Linked DNA regions of Homo sapiens: regions 1, 2 and 3 are each reported to be linked to region 4. Evidence: microRNA targets listed by miRTarBase, many of them from high-throughput screens and not tested one by one. Region 4 holds a microRNA gene; each other region holds the end of a gene's coding sequence.
Evidence for each region. Region 4 holds the annotated microRNA hsa-miR-4708-5p (AGAGAUGCCGCCUUGCUCCUU, at 3,615-3,635, opposite strand). A microRNA usually pairs through its seed, bases 2 to 8, with sites in the 3' UTR of a target mRNA and lowers its output. Matches are read on the target gene's strand: a 7mer-m8 pairs with bases 2 to 8, a 7mer-A1 pairs with bases 2 to 7 and ends in A, and an 8mer does both.

Region 1 (5,059 bases), not on the chromosome of region 4:
CTTTCTCCTCCTCCACTGTTTCTTCAACCACAACTCTGAGCACAAGCATCTCAGCAAGTACCACCATGGCCAACAAGCGATCATTCCAGCTCCACCAAGGTGGGAAAAGAAATTTAAAGGTGGCAAAGAATGGAAGTAAGCTTCCTCCAGCCAGCACAAGTAAGAAAGAAGAGCTGGCATTGTTGGATCAAACAATGCTTACGGAGACAAATGCCGCAATAGAAAACCTCAGGGTGGTCAGTGAGACTAAAGAGAGTGTGACATTGACGTGGAATATGATCAACACCACACATAACTCTGCAGTGACTGTGTTGTATTCCAAGTATGGTGGGAAGGACCTGCTGCTGTTGAATGCAGACTCCAGCAAGAACCAAGTAACCATAGATGGCTTGGAACCCGGTGGGCAATACATGGCCTGTGTCTGTCCAAAAGGAGTGCCTCCCCAGAAAGACCAATGCATCACCTTTTCTACTGAAAGAGTTGAAGGAGATGATTCTCAATGGTCTCTCCTTCTCGTGGTGACCAGTACTGCCTGTGTTGTTATCTTACCATTGATTTGTTTCTTGTTGTACAAAGTTTGCAAACTGCAATGTAAATCAGAACCTTTTTGGGAAGATGATTTGGCAAAGGAGACTTATATCCAATTTGAGACCCTGTTTCCCAGGTCTCAAAGTGTAGGTGAGCTCTGGACACGAAGCCACAGGGATGACTCAGAGAAATTGCTGCTTTGTTCTAGGTCAAGTGTGGAATCTCAGGTGACTTTTAAAAGTGAAGGTTCCAGACCAGAGTATTATTGCTAAGGTTCTGCAGCTCAGGTGCATGTGAGCTACAAAACTAGCATCTAAGGGTATAATTGACCCTAGGTTTGGATGACTTTTGGACAGACTTTCACATTGTACATGAAAATCACAAATGGAATGCTTTTAAGTATGTTTAAAAAATACCATGAGACCTCTGAACTGAAAAGACAAATAATGTTGATTTTTTTTCTTGTGTGGAAAAGGTCTACAGAAATAATTTTTAGAGTGGTGCTTAATAAATTATTAATACTTTTTAGGGTAATGTTTTAGTTCTTAAAAATAAGTTCATGTGAAAGTAGCAAGTGAACTCTGTATTTAAAAATATAGTTTTTTGAGTCATGAGGAAACATTAGCAAAACCAGCTAAGCCTTGATGTTTATTCATGTTCGAAGTGCATTATAGCATTTGCTGTGGATGTTTTCTGACATTGCCTAATGGAGAGCGTGGGATCATAAAGGATTTTGTGTTCACTAAGGTTAAATCTAACTCACGGGAGAGAGAGGGCTCTGTCTCTTGGTACCATTATGCATTGTGATACTATAGAGTTGTGTTCATATTTCTTGTAAGAAAAATTTTTGCTTTTCTTTAGAAATATAGGTATTAGCAAAAGTAAGTATACAAAGAGGATTATGACAAATAGACCATTTCTTTAAAAATGGTAACTGTTGCATTTAAACACATCGACTGACAGATTATATGGATATTTAAAAATAACTTTAAATCAATCTTTTAATATTTTGCTGTTTGCTCTTATGTTCTCCCTTCTTTCTTCCTTCCTTGTCTTCCCTCCCTTTCCTTCCTTCATTCTTTCTTTCTTCTGCTCTGTCAGAAGATATACAAGTAGCCAAAGCATCACGAGCCAAGCTGTTTGTCTTTTGCCATATTGTCTTTTGATTCTCTTGATAAAGAGAAAGCTTTTGAAATTACTTACTGCCCTTTGAAAGTCTGTTTTACAACCCCAAAGGATATTTTAGGACTTTAAAAGGGAAGCTTCAGTGGATTCATTTGGTTAGATTCTTTTCCTAGGTTAAAAACATCGGGGAACTTAAATACATAGGAAAGGAGTTCACAAATAAAATTTAGTTTTTTTAGAAAGAGAATATTTTAATAACTGTAGTATACTACAAGAAACATCTCATGGCTTTAAGATTAACGATAGCGATAAGGCCCACTCAAGCATCTCACAGTGGTGATATTACATGTCACTTAGCAGGATGCAACCTGGCCTAGGGATTTCCAGAAGACAAGGCCACCTCAGCACAGATGCAACTTTCATAAATTTTAGAACAAAGCCTAACCTTACTAGATTAAACTTGCTCTATGAAAGAAACACTTGGTAATTGACCCAGACTGAATACATGTATAAGAAATGGGAAAGATCTCCCAAACTCTGAGAACGGTCCTCAAATAGAAGCTCTCCTAGTCAGTTGGTCATCTGACCTCTGACTATATCCGGCCTATGACACCAGCCAGCTCCTGCTTTCTGTCTTGTAAGAGCACTGCTGGAATAAACTACTTGAGCATTAGATGGTGTCTAAGACTCATCTTTGATGACAGGGATAAATCACCCTTGTGAAGCTGGCTAGCTGGGACCACCCAAAACCTCAGAACACAACTAGCAGTGAGGATGAAATTTGAGTAAGCCAATGAGTGATGACACCCATTTCTACAGGAGGATCAAGGGAGAGTGGCCAGGGCCTGGCTCTGATCGAGAGATTGGGTGAGGTCTGAGGAACACTCTACAGTGGGTCTGGCAGTTTTTGTTCTGTTTTCACATGTGTTGCTGCCTTCTATCTTTACTTTGTGCCTCTGTTTTGGAGGTCACCACCAGGTAAAATTTGCCAAAATTACTTTTAAGACCACTCTGGTCCCACAGGAAGGTGGGCTTCTAGGAGGAGGGTGGTAGGAATGCTGTAGGCTGGGGGACACCCTGGGCTTGAAGAGCCAACCACCAGCTGGTATGTTTCTAGCCTCAGCTGTGGGAGAGGAGCTCCTCGTCCCCAAAGGTCCTGGCATCATGACCCCATAGACCAAGAAGGCTCAAGTACATCTTCTCCACAGAAAGCTTATCTGTTGTCTGCCAACTGGGGAAAGAGACTTCTCCAACATACCCCGGTCTAATGCCGTTAGCAAAGTCACCAAATCACCAACGGGCATGTTGCTGCCATCCCTGTTCCTCTGCATGCTCCCAGTGAGACAGTGCGGCTTCTCCAGGGCTTTACCACCCCCTACAATGCCTGCTGGGTGCTGCCAGCAGCAGCCCATGAGCAGCACATCCAAATCATAGGGGCTCACCTCAGAGTTGCCACTCTGCACCTGGCTGACCTGGAGGCCTGTGAGCTGTGATCATCCTGAGTGCACCAGATTACCCCCAGCAGCACCACAGGCATTGCCAGTCACCACCTGGACACAGTTAAGAAAGCAGCTGCCACCTCCGCAAACAGCGAGGGTGAGGAAGAACTAATCTCGGATCCCAAAGCAAGCACTCTGTCTAGCAGGACTCGGTTAGTAACTGTCAGAGCTGGTTGTTACAAAGTGAGGTTCTTCCTTGCCTTGGCTCCCTTTGGCACACTCACTTCCTTTTCCACTTCTCTGCCATGCTGTGACATGGCAGAGGCCTCACTGGAAGCTGACCAGATATAGTGGGCAGATCTTTGACTCCTAGGCCTCCAGAATTGTAAGCCAAAGTAAACCTCTCTTCTTTATAAATTACTCAGTGTCCTGTTCTGGTGACTCTCCCTTATGCCTGTCTATTCTGTTATGACCACAGAAAACAGACTAAGAAAATTCTTATGGATAGAAGATGCATTCTTACCTTAAATCTTTAGAAACCTATGAGGGTTTCTTACGCTTCATAGAAGCATATGAGGGTTTTTTGTTTTTCTGTTTTTTACCTTATTAAGTCAGGAACTTGCACCTTTTCACGTAAAGGAAGCACTTTACAGCTTCTCTTTGGCATATCCAAGTTGCCTGCGTCACTATTCTTGTGCTTTGGGACCACTGTCAAGTAAAATAAGGGTTACTGGAATGCAAGCACCGTGATACCACGACAGTCCATCTGATAACCACGGCGGCTTCTAAGTGACTGATGGGCAGGGAGTGCATGGTGTGGATCCTCCAGACAAAGTGATGACTTATGTCCTGGGTGGGACGGAGCAGGATGGCAAAATATTTCATCAGACAACTCACAGCCACACCTCCTGGAAACACTCAAGAGCCCTACTTGCATTTGGCAGCCATCTGAAACGGACAAAACCTGAAACTCTAGCTTGACTGGACCACCTCCAAGATCAACTTAAAATTTATGAATTGTTTATTTGTAGATTTTCCATTAAAAATTTTCGGACTGTGGTTGAAGTTGGGTATCTGAAAACGTGGAAAACAAAACCTCAAATAAGGGGGTACTACTGTAGGCCCTTTGACACAAGCAGAAATTCGAAGCCTGCTCAAACACCTGATGCAGAGGCCCAACAGGAAAAGTGCCACCTGGCTGTGGTGTGCGTACTGAACAGGAAGGGTCTACAATTCACAGGCCAAGAATACAACAGCTGGCAGCTATCTCCAAAGATGGGAAGATTGATTTCATTACTTAAAGATCCTGTCAAGCTTCTCCAGGAAGCACAGTCAGGTGGGACTCTGGGCCCAGAGCAGGCAGACGTGACAGAAGCTATTCCTGTGCTCTGTCACAATGGCTGTTTATGGCCTGGCAAGCAGCACAATCCAGCATGAGCCTCCTTACAACCAGGGCTGAAAGTGGATGAGGTACCTACCACAAAGGAAGGAAGAGAGCTACTGAGACGTTTAGGTGTGCTCCAGTGGGTTTACACACCTTCCATCTTCACAGGACAGAGGCAACACTCATCTAGCCCTTAACCCCAGCTTGACTCTATCTGGTCTATGAGGAGCTGCCTCGTGCACAAAAGTTTCTCTACCTTCACGTCACAGACACACTTTGGGCCCAGGCACTGCCTGTGCACCTTGTATCAGCATTATGAGGACCCCTGCCCCATCATATCTGCAGTGACTACTTCATGCCCTCTTGGACCAAACATAGACTTCTCTACCTGCTGAAAGACACCTTCACCGTTAACACCCAGGATAGCCATGGAGACTGGCCCACCAACCTTGACTAATCGCTAGCTGGCATTTGCCTAGTAGGCCACCTCCACCGCAGTTTCTATGGCCTGCACCTCCTGGAAAACTCAGTTGTGCTGGGCAGCCATCTGGGATGGACAAAACCTGAAACTCTGACTTCACTG
Region 2 (5,059 bases), not on the chromosome of region 4:
AGTAAGGCGTGGGAGGGGCGTGGGCGGGATGAGGGCAAGCTTTAAAGGCGGGGCGAGCCTCGGGGTAATGCGTGGGTGAGGCGAGGGCTAAACGGGCGGAATGAACTGGGAGTAAGATGCTGCCGAGTCCGGGCGAAAAGCAACGCATGCTGTTGGACAGGATACGAGCTTGAAGTGAGAGGGAATAGAGAAGAGGGGACGAAGAAGGGAGTTGAACGGGGTAGTAGTCAGCATAGGGTTGGGCCCTGGCTGCGTGAAGGAGCCGGAACTGGCCTGGGCCTTACAACTTCCTTAGGTAGCTGGTCACGCTCTGGGTGGGGTAGGGGCCTTGGCAGTCACTGGGACTCCTAACACCGGGCCAGCAGGAGACTAAGGCGCAGTAGCGGGGCCCAGAGCATACAAGGGATTGGGCTTTGGCTTCTCTGCTGCAGCCCTGAGCTCATAGAAGCCTCATTCCGCCGCCTCTTTCCTTTCTAGATCCGGGTCTTCCTCCAGCAGCTCAAGGGCCGCGTAGCCCGGGAGGCCATTCAGAAAGTGCATCCGGGTGGCCTTCAGGGACCAAGGCGCCGGGAGGCACAGCCCCCAGCCCCCATAGAGGTGAGGCAGATGAACAGGGTGAGGCTGTCCAGGGCAGGTCCCTGGTGGGTAGGTGGGAGTTGCGGGGGATAACCTGATTAGGGGATCCCCAGGAGGAGCAGGGCTTGGGGGGCCATTGCAGGCTGATCCCTGGGCTGACCCTGTACCTCTGGCTTCACTCAGGTCTGGACGGATCTGGCTGAGAAGATAACAGGGCCACTGGAAGAAGCCCTGGCAGTGGCTTTCTCGCAGGTACCGCCATTCCCCCAGGCAGGTCAGGGTGTCCCAGAGGACAGGGTCACATGGGCCAAATCATGTGAACCTGGGTCCTGGGCCCTTTTGCCAGCTCTGTGGACTCCGTCAGTCACTGGACACCTCGAGCCTCAGTGTCCCTGGCTCTGAGGCCATCTCTTGTCTGAGGAGCATCTTAGGGTGGCAGGGAGGATGGGGGAATGTGTAGACGGTGAGAAGACTTCCCAGCTCCTCTTCCTCCCTGATTGTTCTGCCTGCCAGGTGCTCACCATCGCGGCCACGGAACCGGTCACCCTCCTGCACTCCAAGCCCCCCAAGCCCACGCAGGCCCGTGGAAAGCCTTTGCTCCTGAGCGCCCCTGGAGGACAGGAAGACCCCGCCCCTGAAATACCTAGCTCTGCCCCTGCTGCACCTAGCTCCGCACCCAGGACTCCTGACCCTGCCCCTGAGAAACCTTCTGAGTCGTCGGCTGGTCCCTCCACTGAAGAAGACTTTGCTGTGGACTTTGAGAAGATCTACAAGTACTTGTCCTCTGTCTCCCGAAGTGGCCGCAGCCCCGAGCTCTCAGCAGCTGGTGAGAAGGGTGAGGGAGGGGGCAGGAGCAGAGGGATCAAGGGTCCCTGGCAGCAGGCAGGGGTGTCCCCTTACCCCTCTCCTCCATCCATCACTAGAGTCCGCTGTGGTCCTCGACCTGCTCATGTCACTTCCAGAGGAGCTGCCACTCCTGCCCTGCACAGCCCTGGTTGAGCATATGACGGAGACGTACCTACGCCTGACAGCCCCCCAGCCCATTCCCGCTGGAGGGAGCCTGGGGCCTGCAGCAGAAGGGGATGGGGCTGGCTCCAAGGCACCAGAGGAGACCCCCCCAGCCACCGAGAAGGCCGAGCACAGCGAACTGAAATCGCCTTGGCAAGCAGCTGGGATCTGTCCCCTGAACCCGTTCCTGGTGCCCCTGGAGCTTCTGGGTCGGGCAGCCACCCCTGCCAGGTGAGGGGCATGGCGGGCAGGAGGCCACACCAGGCCCCCCGCCCTGCCCCTCGGTTCTGCTCGGCTGGCCCTGGCTCTTTCTGAGGATCCCGTCATGGGGGAAGGTCCTTGAGATGATGCTCAGCTGTGGGGCGGGCCTCTAAGATGCCCCATACTTTGGGGGTCTCAGAAATGGAACCCCCGTTGTACAGGGGTTGGGTGGGGGTTGCAGGACTCCACTCACAAGCCTCCTGATGTCAAGGACAGGCGGACAGGGCTGGCCTCCCCCAGTCCCCAAGCCCCACTGTGCCTTGTTGTCTGCTGGGGGGCCATAGCTGGCACTGCCCACCGTAAAGGCCCTCGCACATTTTCCCCCTTCCTGTACACCTCGGGGCCAGCATCCTCACCTTCTTCAACTGACCAGTCGTGGTTACTCCCTGCTGCCAGGTCCTTCCCCTTCCCGGGGGTATTCTGTGACCATGAATAAAGTTATCATTCTCTTTCTCTTTCACCTGTGACTTAAAGATGGAAGTGGGGGCCCTGAAGTGTCAGAGCTTGGGGGTCACAGGGCTGGGGGTGTGTGCCAGGGAGGAGAGCTGCCACCTGACTGGTGTGATGAGGCCTGGGGTGAGGAGCCCCTTGGTGACTGTGAAGCTGACAAGTGTGGATGGGGAGAGCCGGCAGGGCACCTTGGGGACAGGCGTCAGGGATGGGTTTCAGAGTAGGGCAAAATCACATCGCACAGGTGGAGGGGAGAAGGCAGCAGAGAGTGGGGGTGACCCGGTGGAAGGAGTTGAGCCCCAGGCTGGGCGGTTAGAGGAAGATAGATAGGGGTGGGCTGCCCCGAGTGGCAGGAGGCTAGTGGGAGTGGAGTGTCCCCTGGGGTGGCTTTGGGACCTCAAGGATCCCTAGAAGGCGGGGAGGGAGGGGTACTGGAGTCAGGGCTGACCCCAAACCCCTGGGGGTGCTGGGACCCCGCTTGAGGCCCCCTCCATCAGCTTCACCTGCCCTGTGGGTGTGGACCGAGGGTCGGGTCCTAGAGAGGGAAGCAGATGTCCTCCCACGGCACCGCGTCCCACGCCCAGCTAGTAATCCAAGTCGGTAAATTCTCCGTTCTCGGAGCCTGTGCATTCACCCAGCCTGCCTTTTATAGAAACGCTCATTCCTCCCCCCACACACTGCACACGGCTCCCCTGGGGTGCACATCTCTTGGGAGGGCCTTGGAGCACAGCCAGCCCACTCCGTCCGTGGTCACCGCCCCACCGCACCAGACCCACAAACGCTGCCAATGGTGGTGGGCAGGGGGAGGAGGCTTAGGCTGCAGGTACGGTCGGTCGTCGGAGCCTCCCTCCAGGGCTGGCAGAGGGTGCGCCTCCCAGTTCCCCACAGGGCTGAGTCTCTCTCACCACCCCCGGCGCCTCCCCAGATCAACAGAATTGTGTGTGGAGGGGAGGCAGCTGGGGGTTACACATCAGCCCCCCCCCCCAAAGCCGGTGAAAGGTGCTTGTGATCTTGGTGTCTTTGCAGCCCTGGGAAGCTTTAAAAACATGCAAAAGCCAGACCTGGGTTCCACTTCCAGCCCTACCAGACTCTAGCCATGTGACTGTGGGCAAGTCAGTCACTGGAGCTGCCTGGCCCTCGGTCTCCTGGCCTGTAGAATAGGGATGCTAACAGGGCCTGGCTCATTCTCACGATCCCGAAGAGGAGACAGGCTATAAACAGGAGGTGCCAACTCAGCACGCTACTTGGCATGCAGTAAGCGCTCAATAATAGCTTTTATTATCATGTTCGGCTCAGAGGCAGGGAGGAGTGGAACGGCATGGGAGGGCTGCGGGAGGCACGGCAGGGGGGTCAGGGGCAAGTGGCAGGAGGGCGGATGGGGGGCAGCGGTGGGCACCGGGGCAGGGCGCGCTGACCTGTCCTGGGGCCCGGGTTGGGGGCAGAAATGAGCCTGCCCACGCTGTCCCGCCACGGCAGGCGCCACGCATCCTCGACACAGCCGCCATGGCAGGCCTTCGGGCTCCGTCTCCGGGACAGGCGGTGCAGGGCAAATTGGTATGCAGCGTCCGCCCCGTGGGCCCGGGAGAGCCTGCCCCGCAGGGACCAGAGCCCAAGGACGGGCTCAACACTCAGTCAAGGTGGGGTTGACGACGGCCAGACAACAGGGGAGGGAGGAGGGACAAGGGGGTCCCCACTTCCAGGGACGCACAATAGCAGAGCCACTTACACGCTGGGGAGGGGGCGGTGCGGGGGTCCTCCTCCCGCCCGGGATTCAGAGTCGGGGGTGGGGGCCAGCCGGGCGGGTGAGATGCGCAGAGAGGAAGGGACAGGGCGGATAAAGGCACGAGGTGGGGCTCCGGCCAGGCCAGGAAGGGACATGGGAGGGGTCTCGAGGGGGAGGGGCTGGGCTTCTCCCAACTCCCTCCCCCTCTCCCCCGGGCTGGGGGCTCCGGGGCGGGATCCTGAGCGCAGTCCTGGCCCCGCGGCGCCCCCCGCCGGGCCGGCCCTCTGAGACCCCGGCGCAGGGCCGGCTAGGGGGCGCCGCGCCCCTCACACCAACGCGTAGTCGAACTGCCCGCGCTCGAGCGCCTCCTTGTGGTCGGTCCAGGACGAGGCGGGCATGCGGCTGTAGGGGTCGAGCAGGATGCGCACGCAGCGCACCATCAACAGCACCAGCACCACGAGCAGGCAGAGCACGAAGGCGAACACCGTGCGCTGCTCCGCGTCCAGGCCCGCGCCCACCGGGGGCCCCGTCGACGGCGGCAGGGGCTCCGGCGACAGCGTCCACGTCGCGCTCATGGCTCACATCGCCGCGCGCCCTGCGGAGGAGGGGACCCGCCCCGGGCGCCGGGGATGAGGCTGCGCCCTCCCTCCCGCGCCTCCTCCGCTTCGCCCCCTCCTGCCGCCGCCGCCGCCGCCTCCCTTAACGTGCCCGACCCCATCCCCCGCCCGCGCCTCGGTCCCCGGGCTACGCCCATGCCCGGCCCGCCGGATCGCCGCCACCACCACGCGGGGACCCAACTCTGGCCGTGCGCGCAGGTGGGGGCGCTGAGAGCCGGGAAACGGAGCCGCGCCCGGCCTGGGCCGCACACAACAGGTGCGAAAGCGCGGCCGCGGCCCGGGCGCGCGGCGTGGGGACGGTCCCCGCGGCCCCTGCCCCCGCTCCCTTTGTTCTCGGCGGCCTGGGACCCCCTCCCCCACCGCCCCCGCCCCGGCGCGCCCCTCACCCTGGCTTCGACCCGGACGGGGACCGACCGCCCGGCGG
Region 3 (5,059 bases), not on the chromosome of region 4:
CCCATCCTACTTGAACAGTGGGCCCCTGGTCTATTATCAAGTGGAGCAGAGGCCAGTCTTGGGAGTGAAAGGAGAGCCTGGTACGGAAGAAGGCTCAGCCTCTTTCCCAAAGGAGAAGGATCTGAATGTCTTCTCTCTCCCTGTTACCTCACTCGTGGCTTGTAGCTCCACAGACCCAGCTGCCCTCTGTAAATCAGAGGTGGGGAAAACACCCACCCTAGAAGCTCTATTGCCCGAAGATTGTAACCCTGAGGAGCCTGAAAATGAAGACTTCCACCCTTCCTGGTCCCCCTCAAGCCTCCCCTTCCGCACGGACAATGAAGAGGGCTGTGGGATGGTGAAGACCTCCCAGCAGAATGAGGATCGGCCCCCTGAAGATTCTTCCTTAGAACTCCCTCTGGCAGTGTGACAGGCGCTAGAGGTCCTGCCTCTTACCCATTCTCTATTTATTCCCTTATTTTATCTAACACCATTTCAAAACAAAACTGTAGAAGCAGCTGCTGCTCCCATGTTATTTTATTGGGGTCTTTGGGGAATGGGTGGGAAAGGATTGTTTGAGTATTTTTTAAAAGGGAAACAGTACCAAGGAGACCAGCCCTACCTTGATCTGGGGATAGTCTTGGGGCAAAGAAAGCTGCGTAGTGCTGAACATTAAGCTTTCTGGGCCACTGGAACAAAGAACTAGGATCTCACAGGAAAAGCTGGGTAACTCAAGCAGCTATTCTTTCTGTAGGGACCAGAACACGAGAATTTGAAGAGCATGGCAAAGCCCTTTCTCTCCCAAGCCCCAGGCAGAGTACAAGCTCATTTTTCTCGGTGGTTATTCTGATATCCCATTTTGGTGTGTCATAATACTTCAAACTGGAAAGTCACCTGGTCGAGTCTAGGGAGGAGGGAGTGGAAGGGTCTCTGCTTCTGTACAAAATCTCCAGGATTTACAAAAATGTAACCTGCCTTCCTTCAATCCCATATTTGGTAAATAAGTTAATATTTGACATGTTTGGTGTTCTCTGACCTGTTCCCCACACTGGGGATTCCTGGTCTGTAACTTGAATTGTTTCTTCCACATGTTCTTAAGTACTAGAGTTAAACTTGTCTATGTGTCTTTTTTCTCTCCATCCTTTTTCCTTCGGAGAAAGAGCTGGATTGGCTGGGGATATGGTATAACGAGCCTGAGCCTTCTGTACGTGTCTGACACTAGCACTGTCAGGCAGCTTTCGGCTGGGGCTCACCCATCCCATAGGAGGCCTATGTGGAGCATTAACTGTGGCCAAAGGAGGCAGCGGGAACAGGCTGCTTGCTATCTGGAAAGATGACATATTTGTGCCATGCTTGTTTTTTCACCCAGGTTTTTCCCTCTTTGTGAGATCTGAGCTTTAGTGGAATGTAGAATGTGGCAATCTTAAGGTCACCAATCAGTTTTTGTTCTTTTTTCCTGGATCTACCCTCATGGTCGTTTTCAACATAGCGGGTTAGAGTTCTTATACTGTTCCAGTTCAATTCCAAGAATTGCAAATGTTTATTGGACCCCTCCATCTTGATGATATATAAAAATTGGAAGCCAAACCAGTTCTTAAATGCTACATGCAACTCCCAGATTCCAAAGGATTCAAGTTCTAATTATAACCTTTGAAGCGTATAGAATGGAACTCATTCAGTTTGATTCAGTTCTTACCTCTGTCAGGAGGAATACAGTTCCTGTTCATCCTGTGTTCTAAGATCTCCATTGAACAGCACTGATTTCCTTTCATTAGCAAAGTGATCTTTGTCTCTGTTCTAAAATGGAGGCAGTAGGGAGCAAAACTATTCTTCTCAAGCATCCTTTACACCATACTTTACTTCTGGTATGGTTTATTAACCACACACACACACAAAAGTGAAAAACTGTGTTGGGGGGGAGACACTACTCCTACTTATCTTGCTCATAAAGCCTTTTCTGGTGGGATATTAAGGCCCTGGTGTCTTACAGAAACCATCACGTATGTCGCAGCAGCATTTCACCCCTGAAGTCTCTAAACTCTGAGCCTGAAAAGATTTGTATTTAATACACATAACATTTTTTAGTTCATTCTGCCTTTCCTATTTGTTCCAGTTTTTGCTTGGTTTTAGTTTGGAGGGGAACTTAAGTACACAGATCCTTATCTCTCCCCATCCCCTAGCCTCACAAAACACAGTTGAGAGTCTTTTAAGTACCTGAGCTCTCGAAGCTACCCAGAACTGAACTAGACTCCCCTACCTTAGACTGGTACCCTCAAACACAGGACTGAAGCTTAATTGGGAATTTGGCTTTATGGAGAAAAGAATCTTTTTCAAAGTTTGTGTCGGAAGGGGAGGGTGAGGTTTGCCCACTGTCTCTGCAGGAAGGCTCCGGCTTAATCTAGGAAGTAGATTCCAGCTGCACGATGAGGAACACATTAGCTTTTGGGATCAAACCAGGAATATGAATCTGTAATTATTAAGCTCATTGCCAACCCACAAGATATGTTTCTGAAAACCTGTAGTTTCTTAATTTAAGTCCATCCCCTTCATTAACGCTACAGTTGTGACTCACACTGATCCCAAACTTTTAAGTGCTAAATATTAACATTTAGCATTAACTGTCTTGTCAAGCGAAAGGCCTTCTCTACAACCTAGTCCATCTCACTTCTGGTGCTACCTGAGTTGGACAGAATTCTAGCTCATGGTTGCTAGGAAAGCTAGGCCTCTGATCATAGAAGCAGATAGCTTCAGTCCCAGTCTAGGCCTAGATAAATGACTCTTATTACCACAACCCTTATTATTTTCCAATTTCCTTTCTCACATACTGTACACAGGTAGTATTTTCAATGTGAATCCAAAGCTTGTCTGGTTCTCTGAAAATAATTTTTTCCCCTTTAGGTTCTTTACATTGTGATAATGCTGTATTTAAAGAGAATATTTAAATGTAATATTAAAGAAATATTCAAAAGAATGATGTGTTACTCTTTGTCTCGGCAGGCCACAGTTCAGTTACTTGTTAGAAAAAGGATGCTTCTCTAGCTTCGTTATAAAACTAATTAGGTCAGTTAGGAATTAATGTTAACAATAGAAACATTTTGTGATGGAAAAATAGAATATTCTCTTTGGAGTACCAAGAGCTGGACTTGGTTCATATGCCCTTGTGTACCTGTTCAGCTGAAGCAGGCCTTGCTCCTGCTCTGTTGGAGCTTAGCCCTGTCCCTACTCTGGGCTCCCATTTTCTCATTCCATTAACTTTTTTTTTTTTTTTTTTTTTGAGACAGAATCTCATTCTGTCGCCCAGACTGGAGTGCAGTGTCGTAATCTCGGCTCACTGCAAGCTCCGCCTCCCGGGTTCACGCCATTCTCCTGCCTCAGCCTCCTGAGTAGCTGGGACTACAGGCGCCCACCACCACGCCTGGCTAATTTTTTGCTATTTTAGTTGAGACGGGGTTTCACCGTGTTAGCCAGGATGGTCTTGATCTCCTGACCTTGTGATCCGCTCGCCTCAGCCTCCCAAAGTGCTGGGATTACAGGCGTGAGCCGCCGCGCCCGGCCTCATTCCATTAACTTTATGAAATTCTCTTTTCCTTGTTATCACCTTAAAGTGTCCAGCAAGGAGATCAACTTCAAATCAGTTTCTGCAAAACTTCCATCCCATCAGAAGGTTCTATGCCAACCAATTAAATCCCCATTTGTTAGATTATGTCAGTCTTGTAAAAGGAGACAGCAAAATGATTAGAGTATGCATAAGTCATTTCCATCAACAGGTTTCAAGCAGTCTTTACTTGGGTTTAAAAACAGTGCTTCATGCATTTACAATAAGTTATTACAGAACTCTAAGTCACTGATGCACACACAAAAGCTAAACCCAACTTACTAACTATGCAGACCTCTCCTGATCTCCCCAGGCTGGGCAGTAATTAGTACCTTACAGGTGTGATCCATGGCCCAGAGAAGGCAGCCACTGTCAGTTACAGTTGGACTGCTGCATCACAGTGGAGGCAGCAGAGTTGAAGATCCACAGAGGGCTGTAATACAGCCCAGAAAAGACAATGGAGAGTGAAGGCTAGAAACATTGAGGAAGGGGTCAAGAAGCACTTGTACTTCCTGTTATCTTTTCCAATAGAATATTCCTGCAAGTTACCCATCAGAAAAAGGTGTTCAGAGGGTTTGAAAAAGAAGTGGTTAGCCCATGCCAGTGAAGGTGACAAAAAACAAAACAACTTGATTTTTGGTCATATCAGAAAGGATGGAGGGAAACACCCAAGTACATGCACGGACACATGTGCTCCAGCCAAAGGAGTGCTGTTTTCACCAGCCACAAATTTTCTAACAGCAACAACAAAAACCCACAGATGTAAGTAACATGGAAGTGGATCAGTCCTAAGCCAAATAAGGATTCCCACCTGGGGCAAAAGCTGACTTCCTAGGACATGAACTGAACACATCACAGTAAAAGCCCAGTAGAGGCTGCTGCCAGTTCCAGCTATTAGTAATTATGAGGGGGACAGGATGACACCTCACACGGACCACCCCTAGCAAGAGGGTTTGTTTCAGTTCTAGCTGTGAGAGGAATGTCTGCAGTTCCCACATGTGTGCCATGCTGTGAAGCCCATGGCCCCTGCTCCTCTCTCTGCCTCCCACACACTTAACAGTACACACAGACTTTGCTGGCAAGTGCTGTTTGTTCCTGCACTGCTATACTATACGACTGCAGGACAATGCCATCCGCTCCATGGTTCATTCAGCGCCTTGTCCCAAGGTAGTTGGTGGAGAGCAGGACCACGTTGTGCAGCAAGAGAGACAGCTCAGCTTCTGAAAACACAGTGTTAGTGGTTTGGCTTGGGAACACTGCCTTATAACTGCCTTGTTATATATGGCTTAAGCCTGGAGGCAGGAAGCCAAGTGCAGGGAGGGGTGGAATGAAGAAGCTGTTTTTCTCAAAGTTCCCCTTCTTTGTTTCAGCCCCTGTATGCATGCCTTCCTTTCCTTCTACTATATATTCGTATCAACTCATCCTCTATTTCTCATGTGATTGCAGTAGAAAATTCAGAGATGGTAATGGTACTAAACACCAGTC
Region 4 (5,071 bases):
TAATAATAATTTTGATAAAGATCCACTCCAGGAGATCCTGATCCAGTTGGTCTCGGTTAGAGCCTGGTCATTAGTATTTTGAACAGTGTCAACCTTGTGAAAGGAAAATAAATCTTTGGACCCCCCCAAAGAGAAAAGTCAAGCTGGGAGCTGCTTAGGGCAAACATGCCTCCCATTCTATTCCTTAAAGGAGATAGCTACTAAGATAAAAAAGCTATATACCTGCCTCACAATTTGTCTACAAGGAAATTCCTTTTGGACAAAGGACAAACAGAACGCAAAGTCATCCCTCTGCTCACTGAGATAAATGCATATCTGATTGCTTCTTTTGGAAAGGGTAATTGGAAACTCAAAAGAATGTTTGTCTATCTATGACCTGGAGGCCCCCTCCCTGCTTCAAGTTGTCCCACCTTTCTGATTGAACCAATGTACATCTTACATATATTGATTGACGTCTTATGTCTTCCTAAAATGTATGAAACCAAGCTGTGCCCCGACCACCTTGGGCACATGTCATGGGACTTCCTGAGGCTGTGTCACGGGTGCATCCTTAACCTTGAAAAAATAAAGTTTCTAAATTGAGACCTGTCTCAGATATTTGGGGTTCACAACCTAAATTAATGAGATTCTGAAGAGATGATTAAATATAGAGTTTGTAACCATAATCGTTTCATTGCCCAATGTGCATAGCAAGTCAATACGCTGAAACACCTAGTTGCAAGAGAGAAAGAGGTTTAATTGTAGGGCAGCTGAATGTGATGGGAGGAAACCTCAAATCAGTCTCTCCAAGGAATTTGGGTCTAGAATTTTTAGTGATTTTGGAGTGGGCTGAAGTGTGGAGATCTTTGCTTGGCCCAAGGGTGCAGGATGAAGTCATAGAACAGGGAGATGAAGAAACTATATTCTCATGCTGATTCTGCTCTCCTCTGGGGGTCTTCAAACTTGTTGGCATCAGCTCAAATTTGGGATCTGAAAAACATCTTAAGCAATTCTTAAACAAAAGCCTTATGATTCTAATGTCAGAGATTCTATCTATCTTAATCAGAGGCCTGATGATTCTAACCTCAGACAGAAATACTATCTGTAGGAACAATGAGGATGCAAGTGGTCAGGATCTAGTACTCCACAACTTTCACTTCCTGTTGTTACAAGGAAGTGAGCCACAGTGCAGCCTAATTAATGCTTAATCATAACTATATTTCTGTCCAGAATTCTTGTTAACATGGTGAAGATGGCTTCAAGTTTATTCAAGCTCAAAGCTTGAGGGTGGCCACCCAAGAGCATAGATTCAAGTTGCCCTAAACCCACACTCTGATTAGAAATAGCTACAAGAGGATTTTTAAGGAATAAAGAAGAGGCAGCTCCTAAATTGTTTACCAAGAATTTATACTAAAATAACATAAGCTATTGATTGGGTATGTGTTATTCTTTGCATCACAAATTCCAACATGAAGATAATGGGTAAGGCAGTTAAGCAGGAACAAAATGCCTTTACACAGTTGCCCTGGACATGGGCGCAGAGATGTGACTGAAGTCCCATACTCCTGTCTCTCCAGGCTTGATAAATTTTGTATACTTCACATAGCTCAGACTGATCTGAGCTATTTTTCTTTCTCAGCGGAGTCTCCGTAGTCTCCGTAATTCAGAGGCACACCAAAATTTGAAAGCCAGCTCTACCACTGACTAATTGTGTGATTTTGGACAAATTAGTTCATCTCCTAGTATCTCAGTTTCCTCATTTGCTAAATGGGGAAAATAACAGCTCCAACATCATTGAGCTGTTGTGGAAATTAAATTAATTTAAAATGAAAGCACTTGGAAGAGTACTTGGCACATAATAAATGCTCAATAAGTGTTAAAGATTGCTACTTTTCCTGTCCCTTAGCAACTAAAAAATATCTTTTAAGGAGCGCCATTTCCTGGACATACTACAAAAAAGGGGAATTGCCTGCATTTACATAGATTTTTTGATAGTTGATGTCTCTGAGAGCAATATTCTTTTAGCCCCTTCTCTAAATCCAGGTTTATGCCTAATTTAGATCCCACGGTCTCCTGTGGTCCTAACCACCTTGTGAACATGTTATGAAGGTAAATTGAAGTTAATCTAGGGATGGAATGATGAGAGCAGGTAAAAGATAAATAGTTCAATGGTTCTCAACCTTGGCTATACCTTATAATTATCTGGAGAGCTTTAAACAATGCCCAAGTCAGCTGGGCATGGTTGCTCACGCCTATAATCCCAGCTCTTTGGGAGGCTGAGTCAGGAGGACTGCTTGAGGCCAGGAGTTTGAGACCAGCTAGGCAACATGGTAAGACCCCCTCTCTATTATATATTAAAAATAATTTTTAAAAAATGCCTAAGTCACACCCCAGACCAATTAATATCAGAATCTGTGGGAACAGGGCTCAGCTATCAGTCTATTTTAATCTCCAGATGATTCCAGTGTGTAGCCACTGGCCTCATCTTAGCTCGGCTGAGCTGGTGAGACCCAGTAATCTGTATTCTAACAAGCCTTCTGCAAATCTCAGGACCTTTGGTGTGAACCATCCCATCATCCTCCCAATGTCCAGGCCTCTGATTTCACTTCTCTGCCCAGTGGGTGTGACTTGAAAGCAAGAGAGGAGGTGCAACAACCCTTAGTTTCTGTAAGAAGGTACAAGGAGACCAGTTCTGTATATCAAATCCTGGTTTATTCTAGCCAGACCTGTCTTAGGGACAATGATGGTCTTTCAGCCTAAATGCTTGCTTCTCAGGAAGCAGGTGAGCCAATGAAGGGCCCCACTCTCTCCAAGTGGAGACTATAGCATTTGCCTAAAATACCCCTTCTCTCCAGTCCTAACTGTCCTGGAAGCTTCTCAGAGGCCAAATATGTAAACAAGTTCCAAACCAACACATCTGCTTTTCATTTCCTGCGGAATGCTAAAACGAGTCTTTTAAGGTTGCTTAAAATATGTTCTCTCCTCCCGCCCCACCCCCCAGGGCATTTGCTGTGCGTCCTCAGACCACCTCAGCTCCTCCTTCCCTACACCTGGGACTCTTCTGCGCAGACTTGGCTTCAAACAAGGCTCACGGTTCTTCCTGGCATTTGCTTTTTTGGCTTAGCGAGTGCACATTCAATATCTTTTTCTTCTTTTTCTTGAAAGCACTGTCTTCAGTCTCCTCACTTGTCCCTTTCTCCTCTGGCAAGCGTAATGCTATCAACATTTGAAAGTGGCCTGATTCCCTGGTGTCTGGTAAATGGCCTTGCTGGTGAACTTCTTTAGGAGAACTGCAAAGAAACTAGAGCAGGGGCTAAAGAGAGCTGCTCTCTTGGGGCTCAGATGCCCCTCCTGGGGCCCCACCTCACACTAGGTGGGTTTCCTTCCTAAATTTGAGCAACGACTCTGTGTGACCTTAGCCACCCTTAACTTTGCTCTGCTTCTGTTTAGCATCTGTTAAGGAGTGACCTTTGCCACCAATTAATGAGGGTGAGGCCCCATTCAGTTGCAAAGAACGTGGAATTGTAAACAAACTTGCAAGTGGAAAGACTAGTTCCAGGGGAAATGTAGGTAAGAAAGGTGCTCCCGTATTCTCCTTTTAGTATCAGAGAGATGCCGCCTTGCTCCTCCTGTTCAAGGAGCAAGGCGGCATCTCTCTCCTAAATATGCTGTTGTGTCTCATACCTCAGCTTCTCAGGGCCCTGCCAAGAGCGGGTAGGTAACATAACAACAGCTGTTACTGCCCCAATGTATCCTCCCTCCAAATGTCAACAACATACACTTTGGAGTGGCCTCTTTATGTTAAGGCCTTGAGCTTTAAGACTCAGCTCTGGCCTTTAAGAATCGTATGTTCCCGTTGAAGAGACAGGATGTGTGTAAAGATAGCAGCTAGAGACCATGCCCAACAGATAACAAACATTAAGGGAATACATAAGTATTGAACAAATATATATGGAGCACTAATTATGTTTTGTTGTAAGCTCTGAGGCTAAAGTGTTATAGGACTTTCTCCTTAGTTCAACTAAAAGCCGGATTCTTGTCACACAGCCATGAGAGATTAGGCTTGCAGACACTTTGAAGGGTGAGAAGAATGGAACTTATTGGGCAAAAAGGAAAATAAATGGAAACAGGGACTCTCAGCAAAGTGAGAGTCCTGCTTGCTGGTTTTTCCTGCCTCACTGATTGAATCCCATGTACTACCCTGGATCAGGAGAGGCCAGGCTCCTTCCTGCTGCAAAGGGTGTGAACTTCTGCAGCTCCACCCTGTTCTCCCAGTGCGCAGGCCAGTCGGAGTTTCTCAGGGGACCCCTTTACACTTGGCTGTCTCAAAAAACAGGGAGCAAAACAGATAAAACCCCTGGCTTTATGGATCTTATGTTCCTTATATATATATATGTATAAGGAACACACGTATATATGTGTATATATGTATATATATATTTTTAGGTTCTGGAATAAATGTGCACAACATGCAGCTTTGTTACATAGGTATATACATGCCATGGTGGTTTGCTGCACCCATCAACCCGTCATCTACATTAGGTATTTCTCCTAATGCTATCCCTCCCCTATTCCCCCACCCCCTAGATCTTATGTTCTAATGAGACAAGACATACTTTGAGAGGCCAAGATGAGTGTCAGCAAATAAATATGTATAATACACCAGCTTCTGGGAAGTACTTTGAAGGAAAATGAAGCAGATTAAGGAGGGTAGAGTGACATGGTTAAGAGAATGTGGTTTTTTAGATGGGAGATCAGAGAAGACCTCTCTGGTAAGGAGACATTTGAGTCAAAATCTGAAGAAGGAGGGAGTGAGTCATCTGAGTCTGTGAAGAATTTTCTAAGCAAGGCGAGCAGCAAGCACGAAGGCTCTCAGGAAGGAGTGTGCTTGGTGAGTTCTAAGAACAAGCAGGCCAGTGTAGCTGGAAAGTAGTGAGCAGGAGACTGTGGGCAGGAGAGGACATGAGAGAGGTGACAGAGTGGATCACTGAGGACCCTGCAAGTGGTGGTAAGGACTTTAGATTTTGTTTTGAAGCCATTGGAGGGCTTTGAGTAGAGCAGTGACATGATTGGACTCACACCTTGGAAGGAT

Region 1: miRTarBase lists LRIT3 as a target of hsa-miR-4708-5p. Seed matches in the 3' UTR shown: 7mer-A1 at 1,932-1,938 and 8mer at 1,977-1,984.
Region 2: the mRNA of CTXN1 is a reported target of hsa-miR-4708-5p. Seed matches in the 3' UTR shown: 8mer at 4,099-4,106.
Region 3: the mRNA of CSRNP2 is a reported target of hsa-miR-4708-5p. Seed matches in the 3' UTR shown: 7mer-A1 at 2,637-2,643.

Annotation. Positions count from the first base shown.
Region 1 is chr4:109,869,990-109,875,048 of GRCh38, forward strand. It overlaps LRIT3 (leucine rich repeat, Ig-like and transmembrane domains 3), which reads left to right. Exons shown (of 4, transcript NM_198506.5): 4 at 1-2,326. The coding sequence ends at 800. Among named protein-coding and RNA genes, the nearest start is that of LRIT3, 24 kb to the left of the region's middle.
Region 2 is chr19:7,920,946-7,926,004 of GRCh38, forward strand. CTXN1 (cortexin 1) reads right to left here. Exons shown (of 2, transcript NM_206833.4): 1 at 5,022-5,059; 2 at 3,546-4,613. The coding sequence starts at 4,593. The coding sequence ends at 4,345. It overlaps SNAPC2 (small nuclear RNA activating complex polypeptide 2), which reads left to right. Exons shown (of 5, transcript NM_003083.4): 2 at 478-597; 3 at 760-828; 4 at 1,090-1,402; 5 at 1,500-2,305. The coding sequence ends at 1,819. LOC124904629 (a long non-coding RNA gene) reads left to right here and starts at 4,460. Exons shown (of 2, transcript XR_007067120.1): 1 at 4,460-4,891. RefSeq lists an enhancer at 621-1,223 and a silencer at 4,485-4,574.
Region 3 is chr12:51,059,096-51,064,154 of GRCh38, reverse strand. It overlaps CSRNP2 (cysteine and serine rich nuclear protein 2), which reads left to right. Exons shown (of 5, transcript NM_030809.3): 5 at 1-2,950. The coding sequence ends at 409. It overlaps LETMD1 (LETM1 domain containing 1), which reads right to left. Exons shown (of 9, transcript NM_015416.5): 9 at 3,731-4,794. The coding sequence ends at 4,724. Among named protein-coding and RNA genes, the nearest start is that of LETMD1, 13 kb to the right of the region's middle.
Region 4 is chr14:65,331,541-65,336,611 of GRCh38, forward strand. It overlaps MIR4708 (microRNA 4708), which reads right to left and starts at 3,643; the gene lies at 3,577-3,643. RefSeq lists enhancers at 4,582-4,681, 4,742-4,891.